Homo sapiens: one gene and its partners. The protein of the gene in region 1 interacts with the protein of each later gene in a pairwise test. Each region holds a gene or a part of one and is shown on either strand. Other genes may lie near its edges. The genes, in order: ST13, CD101 and OLFM2.

Region 1 (3,651 bases):
ACTACAGCGATGGAGTATTTAACTAATGACTTTCCCTTTCTCTACTTTGACATACCCTAGGTTGAACTTCTTTCAGCATTGCACTAGCATCTTCATCATAATCCAATTTACAGGCAAGGGCAAGATCATGGGCTGCTTCTTCCCAGTGGCCTAGAAGTCTGAAACAGATTTACACTCATTTTAGGAGCCTTTTATACATATTCACCTATGTGGCATGATATCTTTCTTCCTTACAAAAAAGGATTGTTCTAAAACAGGCTTAAGTTAAATATTAACTATAAACTTTCACTAACCAATTCAATTACTATATCCCATTTTAGTTAACTCTATAAAAACCTGAAAACATTTAAATTTCCTCTATTTAAAGCTGCTTTTCTACTAAAAGCTAAAAAACAAACAAAATCTTTCTTAATTCAGAATATCGTAATTTTCTAAGTATGTAGACCAGTAACTTTCAACTCGCCCAAACCAGGACTAACATAATGTGTTAGCTTTTAGCTACCTTCTATGTAAGACAGAAGAGAAAATAATACATGTGTACAGGCTTTACGAAAAACTCAGAACAAGTAAACCAGAAACTAAAGGTTGGTGACAGTAGGTGAGAATGGGGCAGAGGAGACAGCAACGAAAACTGAGAATTCACTGGGTATACCTTTTAACTCAGGTGTAACTCTTCGAACATTTAAATGCTTTACATACTCAAAAAATAAAATCAGAAAAATGGAAATAAAGCAAATCCTAAACCTGAATACAAACAGAAATAAGAAGCTGTGTGGCTGGGCGCGGTGGCTCACGTCTGTAATCCCAGCACTTTGGGAGGCCGAGGCGGGCAGAACGCGAGGTCAGGAGATCAAGACCATCCTGGCTAACCCGGTGAAACCCCATCTCTACTAAAAATACAAAAAACCAGGCGCGGTGGCAGGCGCCTGTAGTCCCAGCTACTCAGGAGGCTGAGGCAGGAGAATGGCATGAACCCAGGAGGCAGAGCTTGCAGTGAGCCAAGATCGCGCCACTGCACTCTAGCCTGGGTGACAGAGGAAGACTCCATCTCAAAAAAAAAAAAAAAAAGAAATAAGGTGTGGCTAGGCGCGATGGCTCATGCCTATTATCCTAGCACTTTGGGAGGCTGAGGCTGGTGGATCACCTGAGGTCAGGAGTTCAAGACCAGCCTGGCCAATGTGGCAAAACCCCATCTCTAATATAAAAAATTTGCCACACATGGTAGCGCACACCTGTAATCCCAGCTACTTGGGAGGCTGAGGCAGGAGAACCGCTTGAGCCCGGGGCGGGTGCAGTGAGCCAAGATTGCACCACTTCACTCCAGCCTGGGTGAAGGAGCAAAATGCCTCAAAACAAAACAAAACAAAACAAAACACTGTGTATTGCATTAACAACATAAGCTACACAGAAAAAAATGAATTCAAGTAACTTTTCATAGTTATCTTGACTGTATATTTCAAGTGGGATATATATTCTAAGAATAAGAACATCCTTGGGTCACACCTGTAATCCCAATGCTTTGGGAGGGGAAGGAGGGCAGATCACTTGAGGCCAGGAGTTTGAGAATAGCCTGGCTAATAGGCGAAACCCCCTCTCTACCAAAAATACAAAACATTAGCTGGGCATGGTGGGGCGCGACTGTAAGTAATCCCAGCTACTCAGAAGGCTGACTGAGGCAGGATAATCACTTGAACCTGGGAGGTGAAGGTTGCAGTGAGCCTAGATCGCACCACTGCACTCCAGCCTGGGCAACAGAGTGAGACTCTGTGTAGAAACAAAAGACAAAGCAAAACAAAAACTTCCCAAAAAACCTTCAAACTTTACTTAGAGTGTATACTGTTTTTAAGGTATTGTAATTCTGAAACAGTTTTATGTATATCACAGCATTGTAGTAAGTAAATGTAAAACTAGGACAAAAATTTTTACCACACAAGTGTCAAAAATACAAACTAAAAGGTAAAACAAAACATTTAATGTTACATTTTAATAGAAAATATCAGTATAAACTCACAATTTCAAGAATTTTTTCCCTAAATTCATGATTTTTAAAATGTTTTTTTCTAGCTGTTCATTGAAACGACAGTACATACCAGAAGCAATGAACAGACACAGTGATCAAATCTTAGTTTCCGCTATAATGAACCACGATTTCCCACAGAAATAGCTTATTTTCAGTCTGAGACAAGCAAAGCACAAGATGAGCCAACGCTGTCTTGTATTAGAAGGCAAAGAAATACTTGGACTAATGGGATTTCAAAAGGATCAACAGCAATGCATGGGCTTTTCCTGTGCTGACACAGCATTAATAAATTTTATTTCAACTTTTAATGTTTATCTTTAACATGTGTCATAAAATCCACTAGAGCTACTCTGAGTCAGCTAATACAGTTGTCCTAAAAACATATCCATCTTTATCTCCATCCACATTTGAGCCCTTTCAACCCAGGTAACATGTGAAAGTCACTGAACACTTCATTCCCAAGATACAAATATTCCTAAGTTTTGCTGCAAGGTATAATTACTAATCTGGGTTAAATTCACCTCTTTATGCCCCCCCGCCTTCTCCTAATTTTTCAGGTGGCCTAGCAGTGACTGAAGTAGTTTCAGGCTGGCATACTCCTTCTTCTATAATACACTGGTAGTTCAATGCTAACTTACAGAGTCTGAAAGTAAGAGAAAATTTGTAAGGACACTGATAAAAGATCATTCTTTCTTTTCCTGGAATTAATTTTAAGTAAAAATCCTTTCCTTATATTTGGCCATATGTAGTCAAAAACTGGTAAGAGTAGCTTTATTTGAATGAAAAAAATGAAAATACTTTTTATTTCTTCCTTCCTATATTCTCACTTCTTCTTTTAAATTTCTTTTTTTTTTCTTTTACCTTTTAAGCAGCTGTCTACAAGCTATCTCACTTCTTGATACTAAGTACACACTAATTTGAAAATTAAGTCATTAGGAACTTTTGTGTTTTTGTTTAAACAAAGCATCTTAAAACATCAGATTTAAATGTAAAGAGTTCTGAAAATAATTAAATTCAATTATTTACCTGTGTGCTTTCCCCCGCCACTTGTAAGGCTGAGCTGAATCAGGATTTATTTCAATGGCTCTGTCACAGTCTCGGATGGCAGCATTTGGCTTCTGTAATTTGACGAAGACACTGAAAAATAAGTGTGTTATTAAAAAGTATTCATTTCAGTAAAAGTTTTGGGATCAACACAGAAGCAACTCTATTTAAACAAATGTGCAGAAATTATTTGCCAGGGGATGCTTTTCTGTTTAGAGTTCTCACCTGGCCCTCTTGGCATACAAAATGGCCAAGCGAGGATTCAGCTTGATGGCATCTGTGAATAAGTCAATGGCTTTCTGGAGTTCACCTAAAGTGAAACAAAAGTTATCGAGAAATATTCAGAGGATAAAAATATTAATAAAAAGTTTTGATCTGTTATCCAGTTAAGTCTTTTACATTTTTCTTTTAATCAAGTAAAAATAAAAAAGACAACTAAGTTATACTAAAACTGGCTCTTGAAAGCAAATCTTACCACACCTATACTGTAACTCACGAGGTAAGACAATTTCTGAGTACGTAAGCCCCTAACTAACAATAGAATAGCACATTCTTAGTATGACCCATATTGATCTTGTTTAAGGAAA
Region 2 (4,181 bases), on another chromosome or scaffold:
TAGCTACTTTTGAATAGTAGCTCATATTCTTGTTGGCTGATGAGTACAAAGCTTGGCACTGACATACTAACATTAGAATCATGCTTTCAAAACACCAAAAATTCCTCGATGGTATTGACTTTCTTTAAAAATATCACTGGAATTGTCAAATTTACCACTGCAGTATTATTTGAATGAAAACGATTAGGTTGAACTGTATAAAATGGTCCATACTTGAGCACTTTTTATACCAAAAAAACAGCAGTTTCAAATAATGCTACCTTATACAAAACCTACCTCAGGAATAGCCAACATAACAAGCAGCTTCTTTCTCTTTTCACATTCAAAAACCCTATATGCTTGGAGGCTGAGATAGCTTCCATCCATACTAAGTGGAATCTTTTTTATTTTTCATGAATGCAAACTCAGTAAGACAGACAATAGCCCTTCCCCCAAACCCTGCCATATTAATGGCCATTATTTGTAGGGCAGCTAGTTTGGGTGGGGGAAATAGATCAAGCAGACAAAGCTAACTGCTAAATCCGAGAACTCATTTACCCATGACATTAATCTCATATGGCACCATTTTCTATCAGGATTGTTCAGTCCTTATATTTACTAAAAAAAAATTGGGACAAAGTGTAAATTTGCTAACCAATGTAATTGATCAATAGATCGTTATTTAAATAATTTATTTCAATTCCCCTCTATATTTGTAAGGACAAACAGCAGACTTCTAAAGCTTTTTCCAGTAACTTCCTGATTTATGTATTCTTCACATAAAAACTGTGCTTCTACACAAAATTAGTGCTTCAGATGAGTCAGAATTTAGAAGAAGTAAATGTATAACCCAGTTTAGGTAATTGTTTAAATGGGTTAAGGAAAAGCTTCCAGCTTCCCCTTTTTGAGCCTTGATTACTACTTTCCTTCCCCCAGGGCTTCTAGCCTGCTTACCAAAAAAAGAGACAGAATTTGCAATTCTATGAATTATTGCACAATGTAAACCCAGTTTCCTCCTATATACATAGCAAACATAGAATTCAAATACACAAAGCACATACACTTGAGAATCACACTCAGACAACTTAACCAAACAACAAAAACACACCAGCCCCCAAAGGATCCCACCAGTGCACCTATCCATCAACACCCGCCAAGCCAGTCTGGCAGGCATCCGTCACCCAGCAAGTGGTCCCAGTAACTTCCCCTGCAGGCCCTAGGTCTGACTCTTAACCTCACACTATCATATGTACCTAGAGACATGAGCACAATTCAACTCAATCAATGTTTATTAAGCAACCTCTTTGTGCTGAATGCTGTATTCTTTTCTTTTAATTCTTCAGCCATAGTCCTGGTCACACCAAATGCAGCTTGGTTTAGTTCCCCAATCATCCCAGCCATTCGGGTCCCTGCACTGGCTCCATCCAGTCTCTCTAAAGCAAGAGTTTTGTTTGTTTGTTTGTTTTTTTAGATGGAATCTCACTCTGTCACCCAGGCTGGAGTGCAGTGGCTCAATCTTGGCTCACTGCAACCTCCACCTCCCAGGTTCAAGCGATTCTCCCACCTCAGCCTCCCAAGTAGCTAGGGCCACAGGTATGTGCCACCATGCCCAGCTATAAAGCAAGAGTTCTTAACTGGGTCCACATGTAGGATTAAAGGGTCCATAAACTAGGGTGAAAAATAATCTTACATCTTTATTTTCATTTTTGCCTCTAATGGAAATTTAGTATTTTCTTCAGTTATGTATGTAGACAACCACAGATATCTTCATATCACATTACAACTACTTAAGATATATTGAAATGTTATTTATACTCATCATTACTTTGAAGTTTGGTGGTTAAAAGACCTACCTGTAGATTTTGTTATGTAATGCATAAATAAGAAGCAAATAAATTACTGCATTATAATTTATTTAAAATATTTTGATACCTGTATTTCAATGTGACTGATTTCCTCTGTAATTCTATGCATTTTATTTTATGCATTTTAAACATTATTCTGAGATGGAGTCTATTCTCTTTACCAGATGTTAATGAAAACTGTAGCATAAAAAGTACCTGCTATCTGGTTTGAAACTATTCCATTACCTGCTCAACTCATCTGACTCTCCCTTCTACCTCCAAATTTTCTCTTCTTCCATCCTATTCAAACATAGATAAATGCCCCTAGATCAGGCAAGCCCCTCTGCATGGCCCTCAGTAGAGCCAAGTGAATCTTCCTGTTCATTTCTCAGTCTCTCAGTAGTCAATTTCCACTTCCACTCGCAGGTGAAATCTAGAACCTTCTTTTAGCATAGTCTAAAACTACTAAGTACTTTCATAACCTTTCTTTCCATCCAGTCATATCTGCAAGGCATAGTTATCCCATCAAGCCTTAATATCAGGCAAACCTTAAGGTCTCCTCTCAGTTTGGGACACAAAGCTTTTTTACTGTCTCTTGGGATGATCGGCCCAGGAAGATGAGTAAAGCCAGGGCCAAGCAAAACTGACAGATCTGGCAACACACACAAATGTTAAAACCAATGGAATCTTGTGCATGGGACTCAACCAAGCATTGTGACTCCCTGGAACTCAAGGATGTCTAGGTAAGCCAAGAACTGTCATTAGTAAGTCAAAAATTATTGCTAACATCAGAAATATATGGCATAGTTGTTCCTGTAGAGACCAAATTGTCCTGTTCCATCACTCAGCACCCTGAGTTGATGAACTCCTGTGACAAGAGAAACATAAAGGATTATGAAACTTACTCAGAAGGAGAAAGAAAGATGCCACATATGAGATGCCTGCCATTTGGGCCAGCACAGTCCTTTTTCGTCCCAATAGTGTCACTAACATTCAGAGGTTGAGTGACAAATGCTGTGCTCTCACTGCAAAGTAAAGAGGAAGCAAAAGTGTGGTTTTCAGCCCACTGAGAAATAGAGATGTCTTGTGAAAAGCAAAACTGGTTACATTATGTAGCTCTTTACTAATCACTCAAATTTGGGAGTAAAAAAGTTATCTTTGTGGTTAAGTAAACAGATATCGATAAAACTAAGAAAAGATGGGTCTCAACCTGGCTCACAGTATGTGTCATTTGGTAATGATGAGAGAATTTAGGTAAACTGAATAAATAAAAAAGGCACCAGCAATGTTGTCTTCTTGGCCCTTCCTTCTCCTCCTCTCTTGAGAGAGGAAATGACTGAGAAATGGGAGAAGGCCCCTGAAAAACATGAACTTGGGGCGACATGAGGTGGTGCTGAAGGTTACAGGCTCTAGAGTCAGGCTGCCTGGGTTTGCATGCAGATTCTAGTTTTAGTAACTGTGCAATCTTAGAAAACTTAATTAACTTTTCCTAACCCTCATTGCTAAAATGAGGATACTAATAGTAGGTACCCTGTAAGATTACTGTGAATGCCAAATGAGCTAATTTTTTAATTATTTTTTTATTTCTTTTTTTTTGTATTTTACTTTTTTTTATTATTATTATACTTTAAGTTCTAGGGTACATGTGCACAACGTGCAAATTTGTTACATATGTATACATGTGCCATGTTGGTGTGCTGCACCCATTAACTCGTCATTTACATTAGGTATATCTCCTAATGCTTTCCCTCCCCCTTCCCCCGACCCTATGACAGGCCCCGGTGTGTGATGTTCCCCTTCCTGTGTCCAAGTGTTCTCACTGTTCAATTCCCACCTATGAGTGAGAACATGCAGTGTTTGGTTTTTTGTTCTTGAGATAGTTTGCTGAGAATGATAGTTTCAAGCTAATTTATTTAAAGCACTTAGAACAATATCTGGTACATAGTAACTGCTCAATGAATATTAGCTACCATCATCACCATCATGAGACATTTAAGTAAATCTTCATCTGCCCTGTGAAACTGCCTTTGCAAAAATTGTAACAGTGAGAAAGTTATGACAGTGAAAGGGATCTGACCTCACCATCTCCATCTTGCTTCTAACTTCCAAGCTGCCCTTGTTAATTCCTGGTTGTAGGCCAAACTAACTTTGGGAGGAATTTAGCTTAGTTTAATTTTGAAACAAAGAGGATAACAGCCCTTTCTGGAAACAAACCCCCTTCTTGCCTGGGGAGCAGACTTCCCTAGTAAGACTAACAAATTAGCCACAACATTAGAAATTATGGTTTAGGAGTCATGCAGCCAGAGGCCACACAATTCCAACCTCCCCAACTGTTCCTAGGGATAACATCACTATTGT
Region 3 (3,651 bases), on another chromosome or scaffold:
ATCGCGCCACTGCACTCCAGCCTGGGACAGAGAGCGAGACTCCATCTCAAAAATAAATAAATAAATAAATAAATGACTAAAGTGATAAATTTTATATTATGTGTATTTTACCACAATTAAAAATTTTTAAAGTCTTCCATTTAAACATGCACAACCTCTTCTATGAGTCACTATTACCAGCTCACTAAATTCTAGGCCAAGTGCAGTGGCTCACGCCTGTAATCCCAGCAGTTTGGGAGGCTGAGGCAGGAAGATCTTATGAGCCCAGGAGTTCAAGACCGGCCTGGACAATATAGTGAGACCCTGTCACTACAAAAAATAAACAAAAAAAATTATGTGGGCATGGTGGCACACGCCTGTGGTCCCAGTGACTCAGGTGGCTGAGGTGGGAGGATTGCCTGAGCACAGGAGTTTGAGGCTGCAGTGAGCTGTGATCGCGTCACTGCACTCCAGCCTGGGCAACAGAGCAAGACTCTATCTCTAAAAATAAATAAATAAGGTCCAGCACGGTGGCTGACGCCTGTAATCCCAGCACTTTAGGAGGCCGAGGCAGGCAGATCACGAGGTCAGGAGTTTGAGACCAGCCTGGCCAACATGGTGAAATCCTGTCTCTACTAAAAATACAAAAATTAGCCAGGCGTGGTAGCACGCGCCTGTTAACCCAGTTCCTTGGGAGGCTGAGGTAGGAGAATTGCTTGAACCTGGGAGGGGAGGGTTGCAGTGAGCTGAGATCGCACCACTGCACTCCAGCCTGGGCGACAGAGCGAGGCTCTGTCTCGAAAAAAATATAAATAAATAAATGAATAAATAAATTCTAAAATCCTTAACCCAGCTTTCGAAGCCTTTACAGTCAGATCACAACCTTTTCAAGCTCACTTCCCTTCTCCTATCTGCACCCACCATAGGCATCAACCACACACTTACCCTAGTTCCCATTTCCAGAAACTTCCCCTCTTTTAAACATGGTTAGAATCATGTAAAATAAGGGTAAACCCACCAGGTCTTGTCAGCATGACCAATGACTTTCTTCTGTGTCCACCCTCCAGTCTTCACTCGCTCATCCTTCAAGGCCCATCTCAAATGCCACCTCCCCCAGGAAGCCCACTTGACTCTTGACATCTGGCACTTTGTACCATGTGTCGGCTGCATCTGTCTCCCAAATTTGGCAACTGACAGCCATTCAGAGCGGACTGTGTCACGTCCCTCCTGAGTGAGTGAGTGCCTCTATCAGTGTCTTTCTCATAGAAATTACTAGAGAAATTAGGAACAGAAACAATGTGGGCCGGGTGCAGTGACTCATGCCTGTAATCCCAGCACCTTGGGAGGCTGAGGCGGATCACTTGAGGTCAGGAGTTCGAGACCAGCCTGAACAATATTGTGAAACCCTGTCTCTACTAAAAATACAAAAATTAGCTGGGCCCTGTGGCTCATGCCTGTAATCCCAGCACCTTGGGAGGCTGAGGCAAGAGGATCACTTAAGGCCAAGAGTTCAAGACCAGCCTGGGCAACATAGTGAGACCCCCATCTCTACCAAAAAAAAGAAAAAGAAAGAGAAAAATTAGCTGGATGTAGTGGTACACACCTGTAGTCCTAACTATTTGAGAGGCTAAGGTAGGAGGATCACTTGGGCCAAGGAGGTTGAGGCTACAGTGGGCTGTGGTCACACCACTCCACTCTAGCCTGGTCAACAGAGCAAGACCCTGCGTCTTAAAAAAAAAAAAACAAAATAAAATTTAAAAAGAACCCGGCTCACCATGTGCTCATCATGTATTCTTCCTGGGATTCACCAGGACTCTCTTAGAGCCTAAAAAGTGAGAAGCTATTTGCCATTTCATTTGATGGCTGAACTGGCTTTGCCTTTTTGTTTCTTTCTTCTTGTGCAATGACACCTGTCTTCTCATCTATTAAGCAAGGCTAGTTACTAGCTGCCCAGGATTGTTGGAACTATGTGTAAAGTAAGAGTAAACTGGGACCGAGAGTCTACTGGGTCCCCAGGAGCAACAAGAACAACCTTTTCCAGGCTGGATGCAGTGGCTCATGCCTGTAATCCCAGCACTGAGGGAGGCCAAGGTGGGTGGATCACTTGAGGCCAGGAGTTCAAGACCAGCCTGGGCAACATGGCAAAACCCCGTCTCTATTAAAAATACAAAAACTAGCCAGGCATGGTGGTGCACGCCTGTAGTCCCAGCTACTTGGGTGGCTGAGGCATGAGAATTGCTTGAACCCAGGAGGCAGAGGTTGCAGTGAGATGAGATCGTGCCACTGCACTCCAGACTGGGCGACAGAGTGAGACTCTGTCTAAAAAAAAAAAAAAGAGAGAAAGAGAATAAGCTTTTGTATACAGTCTTCATGGAATCTACTCTCCCTACTCTCTGCTCTTTCCTGGTGACTTCTTGGTTTGTGGCTGCACTCTGGATGGATGAAGTTGCAAGACACACTGAGGTGGTGTGCACCTGTAATCCCAACTACTTGGGAGGCTGAGGCAGGAGAATTGCTTAAGCCCAGGAGTTCGAGGCCTGCCTGGGCACCATGGCAAGACCCCATCTCAAAAAGAAAAAAAGAGATAGAATGGGCTTCCACCTTGGCAGGGAGGACATGTCAATGTTCTCAGACAAGAGTTCCCTAGATATGGGAATAAAATGTTCCTGTCATGACAAGTTTTTTCCCAACACAGCCAGACTCAACTCCTCCAGAAGTTAAATCTACTCCACCCCTTGAAAGCACAAACTACCACCCAGTGCTTGTTGCATAGTACAACGCTTGAGATACAGAAGGCTCTCAATGAATGCTCTCTAAATGAATACATGGGCCGGGCGCGGTGGCTCACACCTGTAATCCCAGCACTTTGGGAGGCTGAGGCGGGTGGATCACCTGAGGTCAGGAGTTTGAGACCAGCCTGAACAACAATATAGAGAAACCCTGTCTCTACTAAAAATGTAAACATTAGGTGGGTGTGGTGGTGTGTGCCTGTAGTCCCAGCTACTTGGGAGGCTGAGGCGGGAGAAGAGCTTGAACTCGGGAGGTGGAGGTTGCAGTGAGCCGAGATTGCACCACTTCACGCCAGCCTGGGCGACAGAGTGAGACCCCGTCTCAAAATAAAATAAAATAAAATAAAATAAAATAAATGAATACATGCATGTAGGAACAAATGAAAACAGCACATTACTGTCTCTCAGGCACTAACACTGAATCCTGGGGCTACAAAGTCATTGCCCACACCAGCCACTGGGCTCATCAGAAACCCACACATACCAGGCCAGGCGTGGTGGCTCACGCCTGTAATCCCAGCATTTTGGGAGGCTGAGGCAGGCAGATCACCTGAGGTCAGGAGTTCGAGACCAACCTGACCAACATGGAGAACCCTCGTCTCTACTAAAAATACAAAATTAGCTGGATGTGGTGGTGCATGCCCGTAATCCCAGCTACTCGGGAGGTTGAGGCAGGAGAATCACTTGAACCCAGGAGGCAGAGGTTGCGGTGAGCCGAGATCGCGCCACTGACCTCCAGCCTGGGCAACAAGAGCGAAACTCCATCTCAAAAAAAAAAAGAAAGAAAGAAAGAAATCCACACATACCATATGGTTGGCCTACATGGATACAGTCACTGGTGTGATGATGATACAAGCATGTCCCTGTGCTCATGGTCCCTGAA

What was found.
Region 2: the proteins of ST13 (region 1) and CD101 interact in a two-hybrid assay, tested with the Homo sapiens proteins (one large-scale study listed by BioGRID and IntAct).
Region 3: the proteins of ST13 (region 1) and OLFM2 interact in a two-hybrid assay, tested with the Homo sapiens proteins (one large-scale study listed by BioGRID and IntAct).

The regions. Positions count from the first base shown.
Region 1 is NC_000022.11:40,832,514-40,836,164, forward strand, and holds part of ST13 (hsc70-interacting protein), read right to left. Parts: intron 3,375-3,651; coding exon 3,290-3,374; intron 3,158-3,289; coding exon 3,047-3,157; intron 159-3,046; coding exon 56-158; intron 1-55. UniProt on the Homo sapiens protein: One HIP oligomer binds the ATPase domains of at least two HSC70 molecules dependent on activation of the HSC70 ATPase by HSP40. Stabilizes the ADP state of HSC70 that has a high affinity for substrate protein.
Region 2 is NC_000001.11:117,000,408-117,004,588, reverse strand, and holds the start of CD101 (immunoglobulin superfamily member 2 isoform 1 precursor), read right to left. Parts: upstream 2,830-4,181; 5' UTR 2,817-2,829; coding exon of another isoform or gene 2,772-2,816; coding exon 2,729-2,771; intron 1-2,728. UniProt on the Homo sapiens protein: Plays a role as inhibitor of T-cells proliferation induced by CD3. Inhibits expression of IL2RA on activated T-cells and secretion of IL2. Inhibits tyrosine kinases that are required for IL2 production and cellular proliferation.
Region 3 is NC_000019.10:9,926,504-9,930,154, forward strand, and holds part of OLFM2 (noelin-2 isoform 2 precursor), read right to left. Parts: intron 1-3,651. UniProt on the Homo sapiens protein: Involved in transforming growth factor beta (TGF-beta)-induced smooth muscle differentiation.